Linked DNA regions of Homo sapiens. The protein of the gene in region 7 purifies or fractionates together with the protein of the main gene of each other region. This does not show direct contact. Each region holds a gene or a part of one and is shown on either strand. Other genes may lie near its edges. The genes, in order: CALD1, AASDH, LSM11, TTF1, ECT2, PABPC4L and GPSM2.

What was found.
Region 1: the proteins of GPSM2 (region 7) and CALD1 purify together in Homo sapiens (affinity purification with mass spectrometry; one large-scale study listed by BioGRID and IntAct). This does not show direct contact.
Region 2: the proteins of GPSM2 (region 7) and AASDH purify together in Homo sapiens (affinity purification with mass spectrometry, with the first as the bait; one large-scale study listed by BioGRID). This does not show direct contact.
Region 3: the proteins of GPSM2 (region 7) and LSM11 purify together in Homo sapiens (affinity purification with mass spectrometry; one large-scale study listed by BioGRID and IntAct). This does not show direct contact.
Region 4: the proteins of GPSM2 (region 7) and TTF1 purify together in Homo sapiens (affinity purification with mass spectrometry; one large-scale study listed by BioGRID and IntAct). This does not show direct contact.
Region 5: the proteins of GPSM2 (region 7) and ECT2 purify together in Homo sapiens (affinity purification with mass spectrometry; one large-scale study listed by BioGRID and IntAct). This does not show direct contact.
Region 6: the proteins of GPSM2 (region 7) and PABPC4L purify together in Homo sapiens (affinity purification with mass spectrometry; one large-scale study listed by BioGRID and IntAct). This does not show direct contact.

What each region holds. Positions count from the first base shown.
Region 1 is NC_000007.14:134,964,634-134,967,931, reverse strand, and holds part of CALD1 (caldesmon), read right to left. Parts: intron 2,627-3,298; coding exon 2,546-2,626; intron 1-2,545. UniProt on the Homo sapiens protein: Actin- and myosin-binding protein implicated in the regulation of actomyosin interactions in smooth muscle and nonmuscle cells (could act as a bridge between myosin and actin filaments).
Region 2 is NC_000004.12:56,380,992-56,384,491, forward strand, and holds part of AASDH (beta-alanine-activating enzyme), read right to left. Parts: intron 3,351-3,500; 5' UTR 3,309-3,350; coding exon 3,079-3,308; intron 1,607-3,078; coding exon 1,486-1,606; intron 1-1,485. UniProt on the Homo sapiens protein: Covalently binds beta-alanine in an ATP-dependent manner to form a thioester bond with its phosphopantetheine group and transfers it to an, as yet, unknown acceptor.
Region 3 is NC_000005.10:157,750,212-157,753,711, reverse strand, and holds part of LSM11 (U7 snRNA-associated Sm-like protein LSm11), read right to left. Parts: intron 2,323-3,500; coding exon 2,183-2,322; intron 1-2,182. UniProt on the Homo sapiens protein: Component of the U7 snRNP complex that is involved in the histone 3'-end pre-mRNA processing. Increases U7 snRNA levels but not histone 3'-end pre-mRNA processing activity, when overexpressed. Required for cell cycle progression from G1 to S phases.
Region 4 is NC_000009.12:132,382,841-132,386,340, forward strand, and holds part of TTF1 (transcription termination factor 1), read right to left. Parts: intron 1-3,500. UniProt on the Homo sapiens protein: Multifunctional nucleolar protein that terminates ribosomal gene transcription, mediates replication fork arrest and regulates RNA polymerase I transcription on chromatin.
Region 5 is NC_000003.12:172,753,726-172,757,225, reverse strand, and holds part of ECT2 (protein ECT2), read right to left. Parts: intron 2,718-3,500; 5' UTR 2,696-2,717; coding exon 2,566-2,695; intron 1,932-2,565; coding exon 1,852-1,931; intron 1,744-1,851; coding exon 1,651-1,743; intron 244-1,650; coding exon 61-243; intron 1-60. UniProt on the Homo sapiens protein: Guanine nucleotide exchange factor (GEF) that catalyzes the exchange of GDP for GTP. Promotes guanine nucleotide exchange on the Rho family members of small GTPases, like RHOA, RHOC, RAC1 and CDC42.
Region 6 is NC_000004.12:134,198,990-134,203,106, forward strand, and holds the start of PABPC4L (polyadenylate-binding protein 4-like), read right to left. Parts: upstream 2,801-4,117; 5' UTR 2,729-2,800; exon of another isoform or gene 2,257-2,728; 5' UTR 2,205-2,256; coding exon of another isoform or gene 2,031-2,204; coding exon 918-2,030; 3' UTR 1-917. UniProt on the Homo sapiens protein: May bind RNA.
Region 7 is NC_000001.11:108,875,734-108,879,784, forward strand, and holds the start of GPSM2 (G-protein-signaling modulator 2), read left to right. Parts: upstream 1-1,251; 5' UTR 1,252-1,495; intron 1,496-1,797; exon of another isoform or gene 1,798-2,041; intron 2,042-4,051. UniProt on the Homo sapiens protein: Plays an important role in mitotic spindle pole organization via its interaction with NUMA1. Required for cortical dynein-dynactin complex recruitment during metaphase. Plays a role in metaphase spindle orientation.

The DNA.
Region 1 (3,298 bases), on a different chromosome or scaffold from region 7:
CCTCCAGTGATCTGCCTGCCTCGGCCTCCCAAAGTGTTGGAATTACAGGTGTGAGCCACTGCGCCTGGCTGGATCTTATTTTATTTTAGCCTTCCTTCTGCTGATTTTTTTCACTTCCCTCTTCCTGTCTTTCTCCTTGATGTTCTCTTTTCCTGTCTTAACTTTTGGCCTTGCTTATAGCATTTAGAGTCAAGTAAGTTGCTTTGTTTTTTTCATTTTTAAGCCCCACTGTAAGAGCCAAAAATCTACAGTGTGTATTCCAGAACAGGCACATGCGACTGAATAGCTCAGTGAGGGCCACATCAATGTATGATGGTGAAGGAGGATGTTTATCTTTAGTTTTCTCCCATTTTTAATCTAGCAATCTCTATTTTCTCCCTCCTATTCTTACACCCCTACCCCACGAGACTTATCTGACCTATAGTCCTATTCTTACACCATTCTCTCCCCCTCAGCTAGTTGCTAAAAATTTTTGCCAAGCTATTAAGAAATCTTAAAGTGTTGTGAATTCCAATTTTCAAGGGTGTTCATTGTATTCATTTCTAAGGAATGACTGAGTAACAAGAAATGAGTTTGACAGTTTGGAGCAAAAGAGGTACCTAATCTGCTACCTCATAAACTCAGTTCTCGGTCTGGTGGTTATATTATTACTACTGTAGAAAGAAGTTAGTGGCACATGAAAACTCACACTGTCACCCTCCTACCTTGTACTGCCCTGGTGCTACATAACTCCAGGGAGTACCATTCATGTTTGTATGTGAGTGGTGTTCTCTGAGTCTGACCATTCCACATCATCTTTGTTCCACTTTCCAGAGCTCTGGCTAGGAGGAATGTTATCCAGAGAGACTCCGTTATACTGGTGATGATGGTCTATGGCCAGCTGACATCTGCTTTTCAGACAGGAACCTATATAAACACTGGGACTGCCATTCTGAGAAGTCAGATACCTCTCAGAGGTCTGAGAGGAGAGCCTTCTGCTGTCAATGTTCCTCCCACAGTGGTGTGTGGAGAATGTCTTCCTGGGAACCATTCCATGGGTTTGGGCTATTTACATTGCATGGCTGACAAACCTGCAATGCGCTAATAGCATAGGCTAGAGAGGTCATAAAAGCTTAGGTCAACAAGCTCATTCTTTGTTTAAAAAATAACAAAGAAAGTTCTTTTCTCCCCTGCCACCGAGAGAAAATTATACAAGGAATTGAATAACTATACATTTTCTCCTGAATATGCATCCTAAAAGAAAGTACCATGTATAATGGTTAAAAATGCAGGCTCGGATCAGGTGCTGGAGTATCAATGCAGGCTATGCTACTTATTCACTGTGTGACTTTGGGAAAGTTACTTCATCTCTCAATGCCTCATTTTTCTCAGCTGCAAAATGAGAATGATAAACTACTTACCTCACATGGTGACTGGAGGATCAAATGAAATAATGGAGGGTAAGAAGGTAGAATAGTGTCTGGCATATAGTGGGGTGCTCACTTGTAGCGCTAGTAGTTAGCAATGTGATAATTACCAGCAGGTACTTTTCATATGTTTAGCAATGACTTAGAAAGGCTAGTGGATTTTAATGGAATAAAAGCGCAATACGTAGCTAATAGTGAAGGTGGGGTAATATGTTTAGGTAGCTGCACCAGAACTAAGAGCATGAGAAAGTGGGAAAGGGAAGGTAATTCTCTCACTGCAGTGAATTGTAGTGATTCTCTAGTTGCCGTTGATGTGCTCTTTAGTCCTGAGTTTGCTTACGAAGTGCTTCTGTTTAAATCAACCCATAAGCAGCCTGTTCTAACCTTGCTTATTGTTGGTCTCCAGTTTCTCCCTTTTTAATTTTCTTTTTATTGAAGGAGAACACGAGGTCTATTACTTGAAATGGGGAAAGGCTACAGTTGGGAGTTGAATGAGCTCATTGTACCACAAAGGGTCCCATTTGCAGTGTAAGCATCATTTAGATGTTCTTCAGAGCCTCCTTTCTGAAGAATGACCATATCCTTTGACCAGAAGACTAAAAGTAAGAGGAACCCAATCATTCTTAATCATTCATTTTCACAGGGTGGTAAATGGTTGCCTTACTTTTGAATATTTTTTTTTTTTTTTTTGGCCATAGCAACCCTGAGTCTTAGGCTGCTGGCAGTGGCAATGTAATCTAAAATGGTTCCAGAAAGCAGTTTTGGAAACACTCAGGGAGACAGATGTTTTCCCCAAGTGATTTTTAAATGACTGTGGCACTAAGCTGGGACCTTGTAAGGAAACGTAGACCATGGTATCCCATACGGCCTTCTGCTGCCAATGTTCCTACCACTGTGGTGTATTGAGAATGTCCTACTGAGAACCATTCCATGGATTTGGGCCGTTTATGTTGTATGACTGACAAACTTGCAATGCGCTTTTCATTTCACTGTGTTATGTACTGGTCTTTTAGACACTGATGGGTGTGCAGGCAAAGATCTGTAGGTCAGTGATATTTCTCATCTGACTCCAGGACATTATACTACACCATACATCAGGAAAACAAACCTCTGAAATACTAGTCTTCCCAATAGATTACCTTAGTGGGGGAAGTGACCTTATCCACAGATTGCTTTTCCCAGAGGTTCCGCTTGCTGGATACGTCTCCTGGTCTCAAGTCCTGATAAAAAGGAAGCAGAAAAACATCGATAGGTGGCCATTTATATTTTCTAGCCAGCTCTAAATAAATGGCCACATCTATTGTTTATTTGAATCAGTTTGTTGTTTAATACACTTTACCCCAGTGATCTGAAATGGAATTGAAAGGACCATCAGCTGTTGTTTGATTTTTTTATTTTTTTATTTTTTTTGAGACAGAGTCTCACTCTGTAGCCCAAGCTGGAGTGTAGTGGCGTGATCTTGGCTCACTGCGACCTCCATCTACTGATTTCAAGTGATTCTCCTGTCTCAGCCTCTCGAGTAGCTGGGATTACAGGCGTGTGCCACCATGCCTGGCTAATTTTTTTGTATGTGTAGTAGAGATGGGGTTAGCTGTTGTTTGATTTTATATAGACCGTGACATGTCTTATGATATGAGAATGGGCTGGAACTATAGCCTCGGGGTCCTTGCCCTTTCCTAAGGACTTACTGTTTATTGATCAGTAAAAGTGAAACAGGAGCATGTTTAAAATAATGTAGCCTCATTTTAAATTTCTGCACTCTTACAAGTCAATAGATCATGGGTTATTTAAAAATGATTAATTTGGGGTTTGATAAGCATTTCCTGCCTCACAGATGAACTCAATTTGTACTCACCTCTTTCCCCCCAGCCCTTACTACTTTAGTGCACACC
Region 2 (3,500 bases), on a different chromosome or scaffold from region 7:
ACTTACACCATCATCAAAATCATGGGATAGGAAGCAAGGTTTTGCTGCGCCCAACTCCTTTTTGGGTTTTGCTATGTCCAACTCCTACTGGTCATAAAGAATACCTTGACATTGACAATTAATACTGATACTCAGCTACCTTTTATAAAATTTTCACTAAGATTGCTAAGAAAAATAAACATCACATCCCCATTTCAGTTTTGCTTACTTATGAACAATGCAATAACCAATTTGAGGAGTAGAGGAAATTTCGGCTACACACTAATAAGTAATTATTTTAAAAATATTTATTAACCAGACCAGGTGTGGTGGCTCATGCCTGTAATCCCAGCACTTTGGGAGGTCGGGGCAGGCAGAACACTTGAGGTCAGAAGTTCAAGACCAGCCTGGCCAACATGGTGAAACCTTGTCTCTACTTAAAAATATATATACAAAAATTAGCCGGGTGTGGTGGCATGCACCTGTAATTCCAGCTACTTGGGCAGCTGAGGCACAAGAACCGCTTGAACCTGGGAGGCGGAGGTTGCAGTGAGCTGAGATCGCACCACTGCCCATTGCACTTCAGCCTGGGTAACAGAGTGAGACTCTGGCTCAAAAAAAAAAAAACCCTTTGAGTCTCTAGAAAGTCCCCCATATACCTCAAGTTCTTGACACTTCTCACACACACACACACACACACACACACAGTTGGGGGGGGTGAAAGCAGGGAATGCATTTAAGTTACCCCAATACAAACTGGCTCATATAGAAAATGGGCAAAAACAGGCTAAATTGAATATATTTTTATAATGTTCTTCCCCTTTAGTAAAACAATATTTTATAAATAATAAATAAACAATGAAGCATGGGCTGCATCTTGCTGAAGATATAACACCAATTCTTGCCCCAAAAACAGAGTTTCTTGGTTATATCTTTGGTTGGCAATCATTTAAAAATAAAAAAACAATAAATTTACTTTTCTGGAAAGATCTCCTCTAAGTACCAGTCTCTTTTTCAAAATGCAAGCTTAGTTATAATTCTTCAGTGTTGCTGACCAATGTAATTGCCATAAATATGAAAGTTCCAAGTATTATAAAATTTTGCAGTATAGGAAATACTTTGGAAAGAGAAATTCAAAACAATGCATAATATATTATTATAAGGCTAACAGATCTGTTCATACTACAGAATAGTGGCTCACAATGGAGTGTGAGGGGTGGAGAGCCCCTCTGGGGGACAATTGGCAATGTCTGGAGATTTTTGGTTGTTATGACTGGGAGGTGCTACTGAGGTCTAGCGAGTGGAGGTCAAATATATTGCTAAATATCCTATAATATACGGAACACTCCTCACAACAATTACTCAACCCTAAAAATGTCATAGTGCAAAGACTGAGAAACCTTGCCACATTTAGCAGACTTAGGAATCCAGATGGGAGAAGGAAGGAATGTTTCAATTGAAATAAATGTAATACAGGCAAAAAACAATTGAAACATCCAGACTTACATTAATTTGTTTTTTTTCAACAAGGATATACTTTAGATTACATTTTTTCATAAAATGAGTTGATAATGACGGTGGTGAATCTGGCTCGATAGGTACATAAGCAGCCGGGACTTGGAGAATTCTAAAGAAAAAAGTACACAGTCAGCATAGAATGTCTGTTGATTTAGTATTTGTTTAAGCATTTCTATTTCTCTATGCACTTTATTTATTTTTTGTAGCAGCATAAAAATGGTTTCCGGAGCACTTTATTGCTGATCAGAAATTTCCAATGTTTTCACTGACACATAGTTGGTAATAAACGCTGTCATTTTAGCCGGGCACGGTGGCTCACGCCTGTAATCCCAGCACTTTGGGAGGTTGAGGCGAGCGAATCACCTGAGGTCGGGAGTTGGAGACCAGCCTGACCAACATGGAGAAACCCTGTCTCTACTAAAAATACAAAATCAGCCGGGCGTCTGCAATCCCAGCTACTTGGGAGGTTGAAGCAGGAGAATTGCTTGAACCCGGGAGGCGGAGGTTGCGGTGAGCCGAGATCACGCCGTTGCACTCCAGCCTGGGCAATAAGAGTGAAACTTCATCTCAAAAATAAATAAATACATAAACACTGTCATTTTATCTTTTCTTAATGAAAATCCTGAGTATTTACTATGTTAAATTCTTATCACTTAATATAGAGAAATACAAGATTTTTTTAAAGTTAAGCATTTTAAGTAGTTTCAGGTATACTTTAAGGACACTAGATCTTTGCACATAGTAAATTCTCAATAAATTTCGTCAATAATTGAGTGAAAGTAAATTTTTGTTGTTGTTTTTATTTGTTTTATAGAGATGGGGTCTTGTGAAGTCACCAGGGTGGTCTCGAACTCCTGGCCTTAAATAATACTCCAGCCTCAGCCTCTCAAAGTGCTGGGATTTACAGGTGTGAGCCACTGTGCCTGGCCAAAAGTAAATTTTTGAACATCTTTTGCTTTATATTTATATAATTAATTTACTAAGACACATATTATAGAATGAATAAACTATTTCTTTGGCAGTTTATACTTACTGCAGAGTTCTAGAATAGAAATCACTATATGAGGATAACATTCTAGAACAATTTAAATGATTGAACATTTTGCAAATATTTGTTGGAATAGTGTCTTCTAATGGGTTCATATTTCAATCTATATCAACTATTATCCAAAACTCTAATTTACTGATTTATTGAATACCTTAGTGCCTCAAATTTCAGTTGCGGACAAAAAACATAGTCATGTTATCTGTGAAATCCTGTTTTCTTTTATCTAACAACAAAGTGTTATAAATTGTTATAATTGTTTTCCTTTAACAGATTAATGAAGCCCTTACATTTTGGAGATACTTATACGTTCTATTAGTGAAAGCTTCTAGTCTTTCCTAAATAAGCTCAGAATAATTAATTTAAATAATATAAAAATAATACTGGGGAAATGCAAACTTCTTTAGTCTCTCTACAATTGACCAAACAATATAGAAAAGTCCAATAGTAAACAGAACAATAACTTGCAATATACTCTATTAAAAATTTACATTAGCTTGGAGTAACATCAAATTTACAGTTCTAAAAAATATTACCCTAAAATCCAAGAGGGTAAGTCTATCCCAGGTTGGCAGTAGAGACCAATTTCCCGAATTCCTTGAAAGTCACAGTGTAACAGCAGAAAATTTGATAATTCAGAAGCAGCATTAACCACAGTCTTGTAGGTGTAGTAAACTGGAAGCTGGTTGTTGCATTCATCAAAACATACAGCTACTCTGTCCATATAACAGGAGGCAGCCTTATGCACCAATTCCTGAAGAGTCATTTCACTGAAGTTTATCTAAACATCAATTTGTAGCACAGAACCCTGTGTATATACAGAAGTGTTAGGGGGAGAGGGAGTTTTAGAGAGCTCGGTGGAGGGACAGGGAAAAACTTCTCTACAATAATATCTCACAAAAATAATTATATCAAAGATATATAAATGAAGAATCTCTGAACTTATGAAATTATGGTA
Region 3 (3,500 bases), on a different chromosome or scaffold from region 7:
ATTAAAATACGAACCCAAAGCTATTCTGCTGGAGATTCTGTTTTGGTAGGTCTGGGATGAAGCCCAGGAACCTTTTGTTTCAACCAGAAGCCCCAGGTGATTCTGATGCAGGATGGCTTTAGATCCCACTTTGAGGAACATTACTGCTTCTTTACCCGCTTCAGTTTCTATGTCTTATGAAAGCAATTAACAGAGATTAACCAGGGTTACACACAGAATTGCTGGTGAGTTCTCATCACCGAGAGCAACCTCGACAGGACAGCTGTTAGGACCAAATGAGAAGTACAAGACAAATTCCTTTGAAAAGTGTAAATCACCCTACAAATAGAAGCTGACAGTACTGTTATAATCACCACTATCATCTAACACATTCTCTTCAATTCTTCAAAGGTAAAAAGATCATAATAAAACATTTTTCCCTGCATTTTGGAAATGAGAAAACTGAGGCTCAGAGAAATTATCTTGCTTACAGTCACACAGTTACCAAGTGATGATGCTAGGATTCAAATTCCCTAATGGTTAAAAACATGGTTTTAGGAGTTAGGCCGAGGAAAAAGTTTGGCACTTCCACTTACTAACAGTGTGATCTGCGACCAACATTCCAATCTCTCTAGAATCAATTTCTTCATTTGTGAAATGGAACAGTAATAGTACCCACAACTCATTCATTGAGATAATATATGAAGCCCTCAGTATAGTACCTGGCACATAGCAGGTACTCAATATATGTTAGCAGCTACTGTTCTTATCCAGGAGGATGCGTGGATGGGGATAAAGCACAGGGAAAAGGAAAGTTGGAGATAGAAGACCATATGGAAAAGAAACACCAGAAAGCTCTGGTGGTTCTTTTTTTTTTTTTTTTTTTTTTGACAGAGTCTCGCTCTGCCACCCAGGCTGGAGTGCAGTGGCATGATCTCGGCTCACTGCAACCTCCGCCTCCCAGCTTCAAGTGATTCTCCTCCCTCAGCCTCCTGAGTAGCTGGGATTACAAGCTTGTGCCACCATGTCTGGCTAATTTTGTATTTTTAGTAGAGATGGGGGTTTCCCTATGTTGGCCAGGCTGGTCTTGAACTCCTGGCCTCAGGCGATCCGCCTGCCTCGGCCTTCCAAAGTGCTGGGATTACAGGTGTGAACCACCGCGTGCAGCCTAGTAGTTCTTAACTACCTCAAATTATAGTTGTGCTATTACATATCCCTTCTCTCCTACAAATGTCTAGAAAAAAAGTAAGCCTCTAGAAGGCTAGGAAGTGTGGCACACTCCCTCATTATAAAACCACCATGTGGCCGGGCGCAGTGGCTCATGCCTGTAATCCCAGCACTTTGGGAGGCTGAGGCAGGCGGATTACCTGAGGTCTGGAGTTCAAGACCAGCCTGGCCAACATGGTGAAACCCTGTCTCTACTAAAAATACAAAAATCAGCTGGGCATGGTGGCAGGGGCCTGTAATCCCAGCTACTCAGGAGGCGGAGGTTGCAGTGAGCTGAGATTGTGCCACTGCACTCCAGCCTGGGTGACAAGAGCAAAACACTGTCTCAAAAAAAAAAAAAAAAGACATCATGCAAAATGCTTTGTTTACTGATGTCTGCTTCACCTCTATCCTTATTTACCTTCCCATGTACTGTAAAGTGCAAGTTCCTTTCTGAAACTTTTGCACCTAGCATGGGGTTCAGCCAAAATGGGAAGTCAATAAATGTTTTTCTTAATTAATGAAAGAATGGTTGGTAGAAAATCAACTAAAAATTACTAAACCGATAAAATAATTGGTCCTTAAGGCTGGGTTTCTCAACCCTGGCACTAAGGACTTTTCAGATTGGATAATTCTTTGTTGTTGAGGGACTATCTTGTGTGTTGTAGACTGTTTAGCTGCAACCCTGGCCTCTACCAATTAGATGCCAGTAGTACCCTCTCCTATAGTGGTGACAATAAAATGTCCCCAGACATTGATGAATGTTCCTGGGAGTGAAGGAAGAACAAAATTACCTTGGTTAAGAGCCACTGCCTTAAGGAGAAGGAAGCAATAAAAAGACCTTTTCTTGTTGTTGCCCAAAAGTATGCAAAAATTCTAGTTCTTCTAAGAAGTTATTTTTTGGGTTTTACTTAATGCAGTTACTCAGGTCCTTTAAATATTATAGAAGATATAATCTGTAGGAGGTTCTCCAGCCCCTTGAGAAAGGCTTAATTACCATATTCCAGAACTTGTCGAATGCAACAAGGAAGCCTGTACAGACGCCCCGAAGTCCCTTGAAAGTGCGGATGTGAACATTCACCTTCACCCCCTCACGGATACAGCGATGGAGTTCACCCAGAGGGCTGCCTTCGTGCACTGAAACAAGAGAAGAACAGTCAGGACAGTTTTAATATCTGCCCTCATTCCCAGAATTAAGCCACGACCACCCAACTTCGGCCAGCAACATGTGGCCCATGGTAGAGTGACAATCTCACTATTGGAACAGGAAGGTCCAATGGGCAACATGGCTCGTACGGCCAACACACACTGACACAAGACTAGATTCCAACAGAATGTGGATCATCCATATGTATGAATATCAGCCAAATGTTTCACTACCGGTATATCTCTTATTCCACGATGTCACTGATTTTAACATGCACTATCACTTAACTTTTGGGGTTGGCCGGGCGTGGTGGCTCACGTCTGTAATCCCAGCACTTTGGGATGCTGAGGTGGGCGGATCACCTGAGGTCAGGAGTTTGAGATCAGCCTGGCCAACATGGTGAAACCCCATCTCCACTAAAAATACAAAAATTAGCCAGGCATGGTGGCCCATGCCTGTAATCTCAGCTACTCAGGAGGCTGAGGCAGGAGAATGGCTTGAACCCAGGAGGTGGAAGTTGCAGTGAGCCGAGATCGCACCATTGCACTCCAGCCTGGGCAACAGAGCAAGACTCCATCTTGAGAAACACACACACACACGGGCACGCAAACATTAAATGTATACATTAACAGCGAGATCCTTCTCAATTCTGTGCCTTAAGACAATTCATGAATCACATATCCAGCTTGAGTCTTCCAAAAAAACAAAAACCTTGTTTACATGTTCAAAGGAAACAAACTGCACTCTGCCCTTAAACATGTACAATCCTGTCAGAAAGAAAGGCCTTTGACCCCACCAAAGCTACTCCATGCACAAGCTTTCTGGACTCACTGGTGTTTCTGGGAGGAAAAGCACTGGTTCTGGCCCAAGCCCTGACAGTGTAAAAGGCACCTGGCTGAGTATCTGGCTCCTATGACACTACTAATAAGCATCATGTGAAGAGAGCAGGATAATGACTCATAGGAAGAATATTGAGACTATAAATTTCAGCTTTTATTATGAAGGATTCTCAGAGCGTGGGAGGAAAGATGAATTTTATTTTTATTATTTCATGTTAACTCAGCTCTCACAATATGCTGGCTATGGTATATAAAACCTCCCAAAAGAAAGCCGTACACATTCTTTTTTCCTGAGACAGGGTCTCACTGTCACCCAGGCTGGAGTGCAG
Region 4 (3,500 bases), on a different chromosome or scaffold from region 7:
GGATCACTTGAGGTAAGGAGTTTGAGACCAGCCTGGCCAACATGGTGAAACCTTGTCTCTATTAAAAATACAAAAATTAGCCAGGTATGGTGGCAGGTACCTGTAATCCCAGCTATTCAGAGGCTGAGACAGGAGAACTGCTTGAACCCGGAAGGTGGAGGTTGCAGGGAACCGAGATCACGCTGTTGCACTCCAGCCTGGGCAACAAGAGTGAAAATCCGTCTCAAAAAAAAAAAAATTAACTAATTAAAAAAAAAACTAGCCAGGCAGGGTGGTGCATGCCTCTAATTCCAGCTATTTAGGTGGCTGAGGCACAAGAATTGCTTGAACCTGGGAGGCAGAGGGTGCAGTGAGCTGAGATCACACCATTGTAACTCCAGCCTGGGCAACAGAGTAAGACTCTTGTCTTCAAAAAAAAAAAAAAAAAGGACACTAAGGAAATGGAACAATTATTAAAGGGGGAAAATGCTATCAAGGACATTACTGGGACAACTGGTGAAATCTGAATGTGGACTATGTTTTAGAGGGTGTACTATATCAATGTGAAACTTCCTGATTCTCGATTGTACTATGGTTATGTAAAATAACATCCTTGCTTGGGAAGTGGTATCTGCCACTAACTCTTGAATGGTTATGGGAAAAACCGTATTCCCTTGGAGGAGGGAGAGAGGGATGATAAAGTGAACGTAGCAGAATGTTCAGAAGAGGCGACTATGGGTAAAGGGGATGCGGGGTTCTTTCTGTTACTCTTGCAACTTGTTTAGCTTTTTGAAGCCTTTAAGAGACTTTGCATACATTTCATTTGCCTTTCTTGGGTGTCTTCGGTGGCAGGTGGGCTGGAGGGAGGGCTGGTCTGATTTATTTGGTCCAGAGCACAGAGACTGGAAGTCTCGAATAAACACACACATTGCAGCTTTCCTGTTCTGTGGCGCTGGCACACCACCCTGCAACCACGCAGTGTTTCCTCACCCAAGACTGTATCTTGGCGCTTTCTTTGCCCCACCACCGAGGGGCTTTCTCATGATTTTTTGTAGCTATAAAGAATGTCACTATATGGGTAAAATACATATATAGCCAGTCCCCTATTAACAGGCCTTTTGCAGTCAGTTACTCTGTATACAAGTCATTTCATGTATGTGTGAAGTTGTTTTGTAGAATGTATTTCTAGAAATGGAATTACTAGAATTATTTGAATTTTGAATGGTACTAAGGCTGCAAAGTATGTAAAATTTACCAAAACAGATAACAGTAATTGGAGGGAGTGAATGTAGATGTTTAATAAGGACGGCTGGATTTTGACAGTTGCTGAACTGGGGTGATGGGTACATGAAGCTTCATTTATTTTGTATCTGTCTAAAATTTTCCTAATAAAGTTTCTGAAAAAAATAATTGGGCATTGCTAATAAAGCAGTACTTAGAAGAAAACATATGGCCTTAAATGTATATTACAAAGAAAGAAAAATGGAAAATGAGCTAAGAACCCATCTCAAGAAGTTGAAGAACAGCAGCAAAATAAACTCAAAGAGAGCTGAAGGGAGGGCGTGATAAAGAGCTGACATTAGAATAATCACAAGATAGGGTCAACGCAATCAAAGCTGGTGCTTTGAAAAGACAATCTCTGGTAACTCCTATTCAAGCAGTAACAAAAGAGAGTAGGTATAAATAGCCAACATTAGCCATCAGAACATCACTCAGATCCTGCAGACATTTTGCATAAACCATCTACGGAAAATAGATACTGGTTTCCTGTAGGGCTACGCGTGGCTGGTGAGTGGTAAGGGGACACTTTTCACTGTGTTTCCTTTCAGGTTTCTTTCTTTCTTTCTTTTCTTTTGAGATGGAGTCTTGCTCTGTTGCCCAGGCTGGAGTGCAATGGCATGATCTCGGCTTACTGCAACCTCCGCCTCCTGGGTTCAAGCGATTCTCCTGCCTCAGCCTCCTGAGTAGCTGGGACTACAGGCACCTGCCATCATGCCTGGCTAATTTTTGTATTTTTGTAGAGACGGAGTTGAACCATGTTGGCCAGGCTGGTCTTGAACTCCTGACCTCAGGTGATCTGCCCACCTTGGCCTCCCAAAGTGCTGGGATTACAGGCAAGAGCCACCGTGCCCAGCCTACGTTTCTTTAATTCTGGACTACGTAATCTATTACCTATTCCAGAAAAACAGCAAAATCAAACTGAACAGTCAAGTCCTTTTTCCTTATGGGTGGGGCATGATATTCAGTTCTGTATTTGAATTGTTACACACAACTAAAACGTTCTAACTGGGAACCGACCAAGTCATTTAACCAGCGCTAAAGCACGGGGTCTCGGCAGGGTAACACATCTGAGTCACCTGGAGCTCTGAACAATCCTGACAGCCAGACCCCACACCAGACCAATCCCATTCATGCGAAGCCAGACCCCACACCAGACCAATCCCATTCACGTGGCACTGGTATTTTTTAAAAGTTCCCCAGATGATTTTGAAGTGAGAGCTGGGCTGAAAACCAGAGAATTGCTAGTGTTTACAAAGTTCCAAATTGGGTACACAAAGGTAACTGGAACTCCTGGATGTCTGGAGCGTGTGCTGAGTTGTCAACTGTCTGAAGTCCCCTGAGGCGTGGGAGTCTGGCCTGCACACGCACCCAGCCCATCGCTGCCGTCATTTTACTCACTGTTCTGGGCCACCTGGTCCCTTTCCAGTCCCTTGAATGTGCCCAGCCAGTGCTGGCTCAAGGTGTCCGCATTCACTACTCTCTGTCCGAACATCTTCAGTCTCATCCCCGCATGGCTACCCTGCCACCGCTTCTGCTTCCATAGTCTTCCCTAACCACTCTATCTGATTGCCCCCGACGTCCCTTCTACTCTATTTTTGTTTTCTTTTTGGTACCATGCTATCTGAAATGAGCTTATTTGTTTACAGTCTCTTCCCAGAACTAAATGTGAGTTCCTACTCTGTGCCTGGTATACAGAAGGTAGTCAATAATTATTATTAGTTTGATATCGTTATCATCAATGTAGTTTTTAGGTTAATTCTATACTATACAAAACTTGGCATTTGTGTCAGCAGAATGGATGCTCTACCAGGCAAGGAACTTGTCTTTTGTTCAATGCTGTATCCCCAGAGCCTAGAAAAATGCCTGGCATATAGGCACCTCGTATTTGGTGGGTGAAGAGTAATTCTGAGCCTTTGATTTTTCAATAATTGGAATTGATAAAAGGTATGTACTGGGAAAATTCACTTCATTGTTACTAAAGTACCTATAATATCACCTCCAATGCCTGCCAAGGTCAACTCGACTGTATGGTAATACTTCCTTACACGATTATTTTTCCACTGGAAAACTGAAATAGGAGGGAGGTGGGTGGGCCATAGGTATTATGCTCTAGCTAAAATCTGTAATCACAAAACACCTGAGGCGTGATGATCTATGTGACACTAAAAAAAGGGAAGAAAAATGAAAAACATATCCAACTAGTGATGTATTTAGTGTCATGAAAACCTGATCTACCTAGC
Region 5 (3,500 bases), on a different chromosome or scaffold from region 7:
AATTAAAATTCATTAATAAAAATTTTAACTTGAAAAGTCATAATAAATGTATATGCTTACCTCTCCTTTTTGTGAACAATTTAATACAACTGGTGGTCCAATAACTCTACAATCAGCCTTGTAGAGGTCATTAAAGACAGAATCCTGAAAGTCCGTGACTACAAATACATTTTCAAATTCCGGAGAATCCAAACCTTCAAATTCTTCCACTGACTCCATCTTTACAAAGCCCACTTTAATGTCCTTTTCATCATATAGTTAGCAGAAATAAAAATTATTTATATATCAAATAATCCATCTGTCTCTCTAAATAAGGCTTAACAATCAATTCAATATCAACTTTAACATGTTTATATTTGTAGAAAATAAGTTTCTATCACACAATAATCAGCATTACACTTAATGAACAACCATATTTCTTTACGTACTTACATTTTTACATATACATATCTCCATTCAAATTAAGTTCTTAAATTTTAAAGATCAGTATTATAAAGGCATAATTCTGACTTATTACTTATTAGTCATAAATCATCAAGTATGCATAAGTTCCATAAAATTAGAATGCTAAAGTTTTTAAGTACATGCATTTTGATATCAAGATGCATTAGAAAGATATCCACTACTGACCAAGAAAATGATACCATACATAAAGTTCTTATTGTACAAATTAACTATCTTCAGAAAAATAGGAAAATAATACTATAGCACTTAATACTTACAGAAAGGAAAATCAGCATAATCATTTTAGCAGATATGTAAGATATATGAGAAAGATGTGCAATATGTAGCAGTTGCAGCATGGCAAATGTAGGATATAAAAAGGCAAGTTACTTACAGTAAACACTTTATACATCCACGAAAAATAATGAAGATACTAAAGTACCTATATAACTCTTGTAACTCGTGTTAAATTAAAAAAAAAATTTTTTTTTAACTCAAAATGGGTCAGTAAATTATTTGAATTTTATTTGCAAGGCTAGTGTGATGTGCTAAATTATGTACCCCCAAAATTCATGTTGAAGCCCTAACCTAGAATGAAGAATGAAGTCCTTAGAGTGTGACTATATTTGGCGATAAGGACTTTAAAGAGGTAATTAAGGTTAAATGAGATAATAGGGGTGGGCCCTAATCCAACCTGGTGTCCCAATAAGAGGAAACACCAGGGATGCAAGGACACACAGAAGAAAGGCCATGTGAGGACAGCAAAAGGACACTGCAAGCCAAGGCGAGAGGCCTCAAGAGAAACTAAACCTACACACACCTTAATCTTGGACTTCTAGCCTCCAGAACTGTGAGAAAAGAAATTTCTACTGTTTAAGCAATTAACTATGTGGTATTTTGTTATGGCAGCCCTAGCAAACTAAAACAGCTGGATTCCAGAATTAGATTATTTCGTATGCTGAGGCAAATTCCCTGATTATAAATTACCGTGATTTATAATTTTGGAAATACAGCAAGAATTTAGACTAAATATAAAATGAATGAGAAAAAAGAAGCTAAGGAGTTAAAAAGTATAAAACAGTTTCTATTCATTAAGCTTCAGATTGCACACAATACACCTTGTGCCTAATTCCAATCACCAGAAAGTAGAATAATACAATCAAGGGAAGTGCAGCATGCCACATGCAATGAGTTACTTTGACCTACCATATTAATAACACTTTTTATTAATTTTTCATCCGATTTTCCAGGACAACTTTCTTTTATCTTTATAACAGGGACTTCCATTATTTTAATAGTCTGTGGAAAAGAGACTTAAGTATGAGGTTAAGAAAGCTATGAAACTATTTACACACTGATGGAAGAAAAATTGCATTACAAAAAAAACTAAAACCTAAAACTCCGTACCTTTAAGGCTTTTATAAGTTCTTCTTGTTTTCCAGCTTCTTGAACCAATATCACTCTTGTTTCAATCTGAGGCATCTCTTCTGTTAAAATGTAAAATGTTTCAATGTTTATCATGTATTAACATCACAATCAGTAGGTCCTTATCGCTCTTTTGGCTATATCTAGTATGTATTACATCTTTGAGGGAATCATAACTTTCTCTAAATTTAATAGGACTCAACTCCCAACTTATTACAAAAATATCTGGCTATATATCACTTTAGAGAAAGAGAAACCATATTGTAGCAGGGTATACAAACATCAGCATTCCTCCTAGCCAGAGAATGCGCTATCTTACATAGTCATCCTCCTCAACAGTGCATATAATTTTAGGAAAAACCCATTTATAAAGTGGTAAAGGAAAAAGTAGCTTTCACCTAACCAGTCATGACTGTATAACTTCTAGCTAATAATGCTGTAGCTAGACCGCCCTCACATACAGAAAAAGGAATATCCAAATTAAGATGCCTCCCTTTTCAAAGCTGCAAAGCATACAAATAACCCAAATAATAATCAGAAAAATGACATAGTGTAAAAGGATTCTGTAAACAAATATTTACTTAATACCTGTGCTCTAGCATTACAGTTGGTATTAAAATTAAATCTTAAGAAAGTCACTAATAAGTTTAGAATTAAAATAGAAATTGATTGTTTTAAAGCAGGTAACAGGTTTACCTTCTACATATGAAGTAGATCCAATAAGTAAGTTTTCCTTGGAAATCTCAGTAACTTTAGAATCAAAAATGGAAGAGTCTGCCAAGCTAGTCCTCCCAGTAGTGGATGTTAATACACTATTTTCAGCCATGATTTGTATTCTTCTAAATCAGCTGAAAAAATAAAATTTGAATAAAAATACATAAACATGGTCATTGGGCAAAAGTAAGTATTAGAGGCTCTTTTTACCTAGAATTTATAAAAAGTATTATTACCCATTTTTTTAATGAACCAAAGAAAGTCACTGACCTTCTCTGAGCCTCAGTTTCTTTTTCTGTAAAATAAACATACTAATACCTGACTCACAGGAATATAATAAAAATAACAATGTATCAAAAGCACATAGAACATTACTAGACATACAACAAACACTCAACTGTAGTCATAAATATTATTCTACCTCCCTTCTCCACACCTTTGCCCTCAACCAATTTCTCTTCCTATATTCAATTATAACACCACCATAACACACCTCCCACAAAAATCCTAGCCAAAAATCTGAGATCTATCCTAATTTTTTCCTCTCCCACATTTCCCTCCCCAAAATTCCTATCAATCCCACCTCAAGTATCTCTGGAATCTGGCCCCCCTTCTCTATACGTTCAATGACACAATGGTCACTTGGTCTAATAAACCAGCTCCACACAACTTTACCATCAGTTTCCTTAGAAATCACTCTCCACATGGTTTTCAGGAATATGCACCTAAATACAAATGTGACCATATCACTTCCCTGCTTAACAACTTCCATGAGTACTCCTTATATGTCCAAGTCCAAATTCACCACCAAGTTCACAATTTGGTCCCCGCCTAACTATTCACCCTCACCATCTGTAACTACCCCAGTCCCTATACAATCTATGCAACAGCAACAATGAATTTCTCAGCTATTTTTC
Region 6 (4,117 bases), on a different chromosome or scaffold from region 7:
AAACAATATAAAAGAGATTTTAAAAGTTTTTAAACAGAATTTCTATAATCTGTATGTATGATTTTCATAATATTAGCATCTGGTAAAAATTTAAGATAATATATTAAGCCATATAGGTATGAAGAGATTTAAGACCAGGCCAACTTTGGATCACCTGAGTTGATAACAGATTTATAACTTAAGGAATGTAGAAGTTAAGGTTTTACAGTGCAAGTTACAATTTAGATTAACTAGTAAGTACCTGAATTATAGTCAACTAATGGAAAGAACAAAACACATAAAGCCAGTTTTTAGGCAACATTAAAAACTTCCATCATCTTAATTTAAACCATCCGAAAAACAAGCATGTCAGGATATAAATTTAAAAGAAATTCAACTATATCTGACTATTTTAAGCATTAATTCAAAATGAAATTAGGTCTTTAAATTCGTACTATAAATTTCTAAAAGTTTGATTTCTCAAAACTTGGATGAAAAATTAGAAAATTTCTGTTGGTAAAAATACTTTGGAATCTTTAGTTGTAAGAACTATTTTGAGCATATTTTCATAGAAGAAATTAAAGCTAGCAATATTACTAAAATAATAAATATGCAATAAATTCAAATAATTACCTCATTTCATTTGGTTCAAATGTAAAAATATATCTATTTATACTTATTGCTATGAACATATCAAAATAAGAAAAATGTGCAATATTAAAATTAGAAAATGTGCCTCTGTAAAATGAACTAAGCTCCATCTATTTTTCCACAAAAGAAAAAAAATGGCTTTGTATAAAAAACGTTTTATCATAAAGTTTACTAAACTAAGCACCCATCATGTGGAATATGAAATTTACTGAGGTCAATTCAGGCAGAGATCACTATCATTCTCCCACCTGCTGCAGATACTAGCTGGAAAGGTACGTTTTTCTTTCCTAGTGTCTCTGGGCCAAGGCAATGCTAAGAGGTTTGGAGCCCAAGATGCGGCCATTCATCTCAGTCATTGCTTTAGTAGCATCCTCAGGAGAGGAGAAGCAGATCAAGCCAAACCCTTTGCTCTGCCCCTCTTCCTGCATTACCTTAACTCTGCTAATTGATCCAAATGAAGAAAATTCGTTTCGTAGTTTTTCATCATCGATGGTGTCATCAAGGTTCTTAATATAGAGTTTTACCCCCTGGCACCCACGAATTCGTTCCCTTTTCAGCTGCTCAAACATTTGCTTTAACTCAGCCTGTCGCTCGACTTTCTTTTGAGCCCGGCCTACAAAAATCAGCTGCCCATTTATGTCCCTTCCATTCATTTCTTCAACAGCTTTCTTGGCAGCCTCATGGCTATCAAAACTCACAAAGCCAAAGCCTTTGGATTTCCCACTGGAATCTGTCATCACCTTAACACTCAGAGTTTTGCCATATTTGCTGAAAACGTCCTTCAATCTCTCATCATCCATGTCACCTCCAAAGTTTTTTATGTAAACATTGGTGAATTCACTGGCTTTGCTTCTGAGTTCAGCTTCACGATCTTTTCGGTTTTTGAATCTGCCAACAAACACCTTGCAGCCCTTGAGTAGTTTTCCATTCATCTCCTCAATGGCCCTGTCTGCAGCACTCTGGTTCTGAAAGTGCACAAATGCATAGCCCTTGGAGCCTTGATCATCACTCATCACCTTGGAGGAAAGGATCTTTCCAAAAGCTGAAAAATGTTCATAAAGGGTTTTGTTATCGATAGATTTGTCCAGATTCTTGATGAATACGTTCCCAATTCCAGATCTCCTCAAGTAGGCATCGCGCTGAGACCACATGAGACGGATGGATTTGCCTTTTATGATGTCAAAGTTCATTGTGTCCAGCGCCTTCTGGGCATCAGCCAGCTGCAAGAAGTTCACGTAGGCATAGCCCAGAGAGCGGCGGGTGACCTGGTCCCTGCAAATGCGGATGGACAGCACAGGCCCCACAGTGCTGAACTTCCTGAACAGCAGGTCCTCGGTGACATCTGCATGTAAGTCACCCACATACAGGGAGGCCATGCGGTACTTGGCTGCTACATTCATCTCCTTGTCCTTGCCACTGTGAGTTTGTCCCCTGGAGTTCTTTGAGCAATCCCTGTGGGGGGATACTAGGTCACAGCTTTGGCCCGGTTCAAGTGTGGAGGCCTCGGGATCACCACACAAAGGCCAAGCAATGGAGTTCAGACACGACTCCCCCAGCTCAGGCAACACCCTCATCCAAAAGTCCCCACAGCCACCAATCTGGCCCTCCTAGGACGCGGCAACAGAACTGTGAAATCGCAAAGAGAGATTATTAGGACAAGACGTTCCTTCCCCTCAGATTTGTGAGAAAACTTCAAGTGGCGGGCTGGCCCTCCATCTGAGCATTCTCCACAGACGCCCTGGTCGCTGGTTTCTGAATAAAAATAGGCCTCGCTCAGAGTGGTTTAAAGTTACAGCCGCTCAGGGAAGAACTCCACAAGCGGAGGCGTCAGAGGCCCCAGCCGTGGAGTATGGGCTGCGAGGTTCTGCCCGGCAGAGACCCGAACCTGCCAGGTACCGGGTTCTGCAGGCGCCGCCGCCGCCGAGGCGCTGCCGGCAGCGACGCGGGCCAAGGGCGTCCTGAAGACCTAGGGGGCCCCTCCGACCTCCCGACCCGCGCGGCGCCCGGAGAAAGGAGGCGTGGGGGAAGGGGAGGCTGACAGACCGACGGACTGACGGACGCGGCGAAGCGGGCGGCCAGGCGGGGGCTGGGGGCTCACCGGCGGTCGTCTGCGGGCGGGCGGGAAGCCCGGAACTCGCGCGCTGAACTTCCCGCGCACTCGCTGCCAAGTGGGATGTTTTCTTTTTAATATTTTTTTTAAGAACGTTTTTCTTCCCCCCGCCCCTATTACACGTTTCCCACCCTCCTCAGATGGCTAAGCTGAGAAGCAGGAGGCGGTGACTGGGGTGGAGAAAGGCAGCCGAGGGGAGTGGCCCCAATAAACCCACCCGCCCGCAGGGCTTTGCATGGGTCTGAGTGAAGGAGCCTTTCCAAATGTGGATCAGGGCCTGTCACTTCCTGGCTTCAAACCCTCCAGTGGCTTCCTTTGACTTTTGGATAAGGTCCAACATCCGCACCTTGTTCTATAAAGTTCTGCAGGATTCCTGAAATGTTCCAGCCTCAACTGCTGCTTAGTTCCCCTTACAAAACTCCAAGACACACTAGCGTTTTTCAGAGCCAACTTTATAAAAATGTGTTCTTCGGAAATGAGTTAAAATGCTCTTTCCAAATAGATGTTTTTTCTAAACCCCTCTGACAATTTAGGTTTCCCTCTTAGAAACTCTAACACTACCCTGTACTTGCCGGCTTTTGTCTAATTACAAAATATTGCATATTTCGTAACAATAGAAGCCATGTGCACTTTATTCTCAGGGACTTGCAGACAAGGGATGTGCAGTATTTATTGAACAAATCTTAGCCTCAGGTTAGTTTTCACATCTAGTTAAATGGAGGCGGTGGCACTTATCTTAGAGAGTATTTTACGTGTGAAATGAGTTAATAGATTTGGAAATGGATAACACAATATCAGATACATAAGTGGTTTCCAGTAACAATGATTTCATTTTCTTTAGCATTAAATAAAATTCTTTAGTATCTAATGAATCCTTAAAATTTGAATCATAATGCATCTTAGAGAGTCAATAAGTTACTGTCACGGTAGCATGACCTTGATTCTCCAAGAGTGCCAGAACCTATGAAATTAACCTGTGGTCTCAGTTGTACTTGTTTACAGAAACAAAAGCCGGGCTGGATGCCAGTAGCCACAAACAAGCCACGAGATAAAAACTCAGCTTGGCAGTGCTACTCAGACAGACCTGAATCCTCACTTCCTTATCATATTAAAATCTCTGCCCAGTGGGGAGAGATGCCCTTTGCTAGGCACATATAGTAAGTGCCCAGTGCAAAAGAAAGAACAAGACTGCACACATTCTAGTTTTCTCTGGAAAGTCCCACCTCTTTCCAGGAATTCGCATCCTTAGTCTCCACCTTCATGCTCTAAGAGACCTTAAAAATCCCCCTTCTGCACACACCTGGGGAAAAGGTGAATGGGAAGCTCACCTTCTCTACTCTTTGAACAACAAATAAAGTTTCTGCTCTGCTTAACAGA
Region 7 (4,051 bases):
CACTGCAACCTCCGCCTCCTGGGTTCAAGCAATTCTCCTGCCTCAGCCTCCCGAATAGCTGGGATTGCAGGCGCCCACCACCAGGCACGGCTAATTTTTGTATTTTTAGTAGAGACGGGGTTTCACCATTTTGACCAGGCTGGTCTCCAACTCAGGTGATCCCCCCGCCTCGGCCTCCCAAAGTTGCTGGTATTACAGATGTGAACCACCGCGCCCGGCCGGTATTTTGTGAAGAACAAACTATAAGGTGACTACTATTTTGGGGTCACCTTGACATGGAGGAGAGGTGAATGGAAATAAAACTTATTCTTCCCAGTGTCTTTAGAATGTAGGCGCTGAAACTGAGTGAAACTGAGTAAAACTGCCACCCAATTTTCCTGGGAACCAGCGATTCTGTAGTCAACAGAAGTTTGCTTTTCCAACAGCTGGAAACGCCAGGGTTGGGCACAGCCTCAAGAACTGAGGCTGCCTTGTTCAGACTTTCACACGGTCCCTCTGTTCCTTCCACAGAGGCCTCTTTTTCTTCTATATCCCGCATCTGCCGCTTGGGACACTCATTCTGTAGCGCAGCACCAAGTCTTCCAAAAAGGCGGCGCTGGTTTTGCGCTCCTTTTTTAAAGGGATCTAGGCCAGCCTCTATCTGAACTCTGTACGATGTTTTTTGTTTGTTTGTTTTGTTTTGTTTTTGAGATGGAATTTCGCTCTTGTTGCCCAGGCTGGAGTGCAATGGTGCGATCTCCACTCACGGCAACCTCCGCCTCCCGGATTCAAGCGATTCTCCTGCCTCAGCCTCCTGAGTAGCTGGGATTAAAGGCATGCGCCACCACTCCCAGCTAATTTTGTATTTTTAGTAGAGACGGGGTTTCTCCATGTTGGTCAGGCTGGTCTCGAACTCCCGACCTCAGGTGATCCGCCCGCCTCGGCCTCCCAAAGTGCTGGGATTATAGCCGTCCGTCACAGCGCCCGGCCAACTCTAGACAATATTTATTGCTCTACTTTTTAGTGTCTGAAGAAGAAAGAAGAGGACAGGAAAGAAACTTCAGTCTGAGGGTTGAGGACACGTCCCGGAGCAGAGGAGGACCAAGCTCCCAAGCCCCCTGTCACCTTGACACGCAGACGGTTCCCCAGGACTGCGAAGAGGGGGGCAACCAGCGCCCCGCCCCGCCCCGCTGCGCCGCCCGCCATTGGCCGGTCCGAAAGACGCGGGGCGTTGTCGGTTTGAATGAGAGCGCCTGGAGCCGGGGCGCAGGCGCAGAGGAGGGCGGTGTTGAGACCGGCGGAGCGGCGGGACCCCTAGGTGGCGGAGGGACGCTCCGGGAAAGCGAGGGGCGCTACGAGCTCTGGCCCACGTGACCTGCCGGGGGCGGGAGCAGGGGGCGCGCCGGCCTCCTGCGGTGCCCCTGCCTTGGGGAGGGGCCGTGACCACCCGTCTGTCGCCCGAGGCGGCCGCCGCTGCACCTTCACCGCGTACCCGGGACCCGCCCGCCCGCGGGAGGTGAGCGCTTCCGCGACGCGGGTTCTGAGGCGTTTGAGGGGCTCTCGGAGGGAGGTGACAGGGAGGGGTGCGTGTGCGTGCGTGTGGGGCTTCTGTGTCCAGAGGTCTGGGGGTGACGTCCTTTGTTTTGGGCAGGAGGCGGGCTGGGGGCTTGCGGGACCTGTGGGCGCTGCGGGGACGCGGCGTCGATGCTCAAGAAACCAGAAACTCGGCTTGAGGAGTTGCTGCTTTTTTGTCGGAAGGTCTTCAAATGAGAGTAAAGCGTTAAGAGCCTCACTCCTGAGTCTTTTTTTTTTTTTAAGATAAAAACTATACTAGAGTCCAGCGACTTCTTACCACTCTGAATGTGAGTAACAAATTGTGAATCAAAGCCCGAATCCCCGTGGAATTCATTCCGAGGCTGATTGCAATCACTTGGAGTCGGGCGCGTCCTACCTAAACCAGGCAGTTTATGGCAAATACCTGCCTTGACCGTGCTTAAATTAGTGAACTTTTGGGCACCAACTGGTCGATTTACCATAGAAATTGGTAGTTGCTGCAAAAAGAGTAAGTAAACATAAAACGTTAAGAAAACTCTTTCCTGAAATCTATAGAATACCTTCGAATAAAAAAAAATCTGTAATTTCCTTGTTTTAATAGTAACCAGTTAGAGCATTTGAACTAGTAGCATTTGAACTCTGTTAAAGAAAACGAGTAAGGATGGAAATTTTATTGGCCTTAATGCATAATTTAACCACACCGTAGAATTAAACGAAGTAGGTTCTTGGCTTTCCTTTCTATCGGGTTTGCATTGGAGCGTTCGTGGGGTGTGTTGGAAGTCAGCAGGACCAACAGAGCTGAGTTTTCAAGCTGCCACTTTAGAAGGGTGTACCGAAGATTTCTGGCCTGATAATAGCCGGTGTGATTGCTTCTGATAAATACCACTTTTGATTGGGTTCTCACTATTCAGGAGCAGCTTTAGTTGATTGTTTAGAAGTGAATAAACAACATTAAAAAGGGTAGATCACTGTTGGTTGACATGGTGTGTGTAAGGAGAGGGGGGCCTCAGGGATTAGGGGTGGTCTCACACCTACTTCTCTTTACAACTACCACGGAGTCGTTTTCGCAAGCTATTTCCCAGGCTATTACTTATAATTTAAGTATTGGAGCGGTTTCAAAGTAAAAAGTTGTGTGATGTTGTTGTAGAGGCATGTCTCCAAAATCCTCTCTGGCCAGATAAGCAGTTTAATTGTATTTTCTTACATTCTTAAATCAGATATTCGGTGTTACAAACATATTTTAATATAGATCTGAGACTTGCTTACTAGACTAATTAAAACAGTGATAAGATATAGTAGTTTTAAAAATGACCTTTTCATAAACATAAAATATTTCTAAGATCTATCTTTAGAAATTTGTAATTAGTTCTCTGGAATTTTAAAATGGAAAATCTGACATAGATTTAGGTTATTCTAAATTTATTTGAATATATATTAAATATGTCTATTTTATAATAACAGTTACTGTTATTACTACAGCACTATGTTGAGTACTTTTGTTATGTATCAGAGCCAGGTGCTGGGTCAGGTGCTTTATAAATCATGTCTGTAATTATCACAGCACATTTTAGGTAAGTGTCATTATGCCCACACCAACTGAGAGTTTAGCGTAAGATCATATAACTAATAAGTCACTGTGCCGAGATTCAAATCATGGCCTGATCCCAAAGCACATGCTGTATTGCTTCTGTGTGTCTGTTTAAATCTCTGCTGTGTCTCTGGATTCCATTTGTAGGGACAAGTTCTACTTTAAAGATGCCTTTAGGTGCTGTGTTTTGTTGTAGCTTCGCAGAAATATTTCAATCTTTCTGTTGGAACTATCTTGCTTCATTATTTTATAAATCATCTTATAAATCACATTATATTTTCAATATCTTCTTAATCATCTTTATACAAAACATAAGTGAAGAGTAAGACTTTTCTGAGTTTCTTACATAAATATGAATAGAATCTTTACTGTGGAGAAGAAATGTATTACAGTCCGGTTTTCTCACTATTGTAGGATTCTTTGGCCTCGTCATAATTCCTGTCTTCTTCCCAGGGAAGAAATTAAAGTTTGTTGGGCCTCTCTTATGTGCAAAGCAATGTCGTTGGTGTTGTGAGATGACAAGAAAATGCTTCCTATTCAGTAGTTGTTTCTGGAGTTTTTGTAGTATTTTTCTTTTCTCCCCATTCCTGCCTTATATGTTGCTGCTGGTTTATCTTCCTAGCAGAGATCCAACTTGGCTATTCCTTTGTGGGGAAAAAATACCAGCAAGGTTCCCCATTGTGTAAATAAAAGGCTGAGGCCGGGTACGGTGGCTCACGCCTGTAATCCCAGCACTTTGGGAGGCCGAGGTGGGCGGATCACGAGGTCAGGAGTTCAACACCAGCCTGACCAACGTGGTGAAACCCCGTCTGTACTAAAAATACAATAGTTAGCCCAGTGTGGTGGCACACGCCTGTAATCCAAGCTACTCAGGAGGCTGAGGCAGGGAGGCGGAGGTTGCAGTGAGCCGAGATCGCGCCACTGCACTCC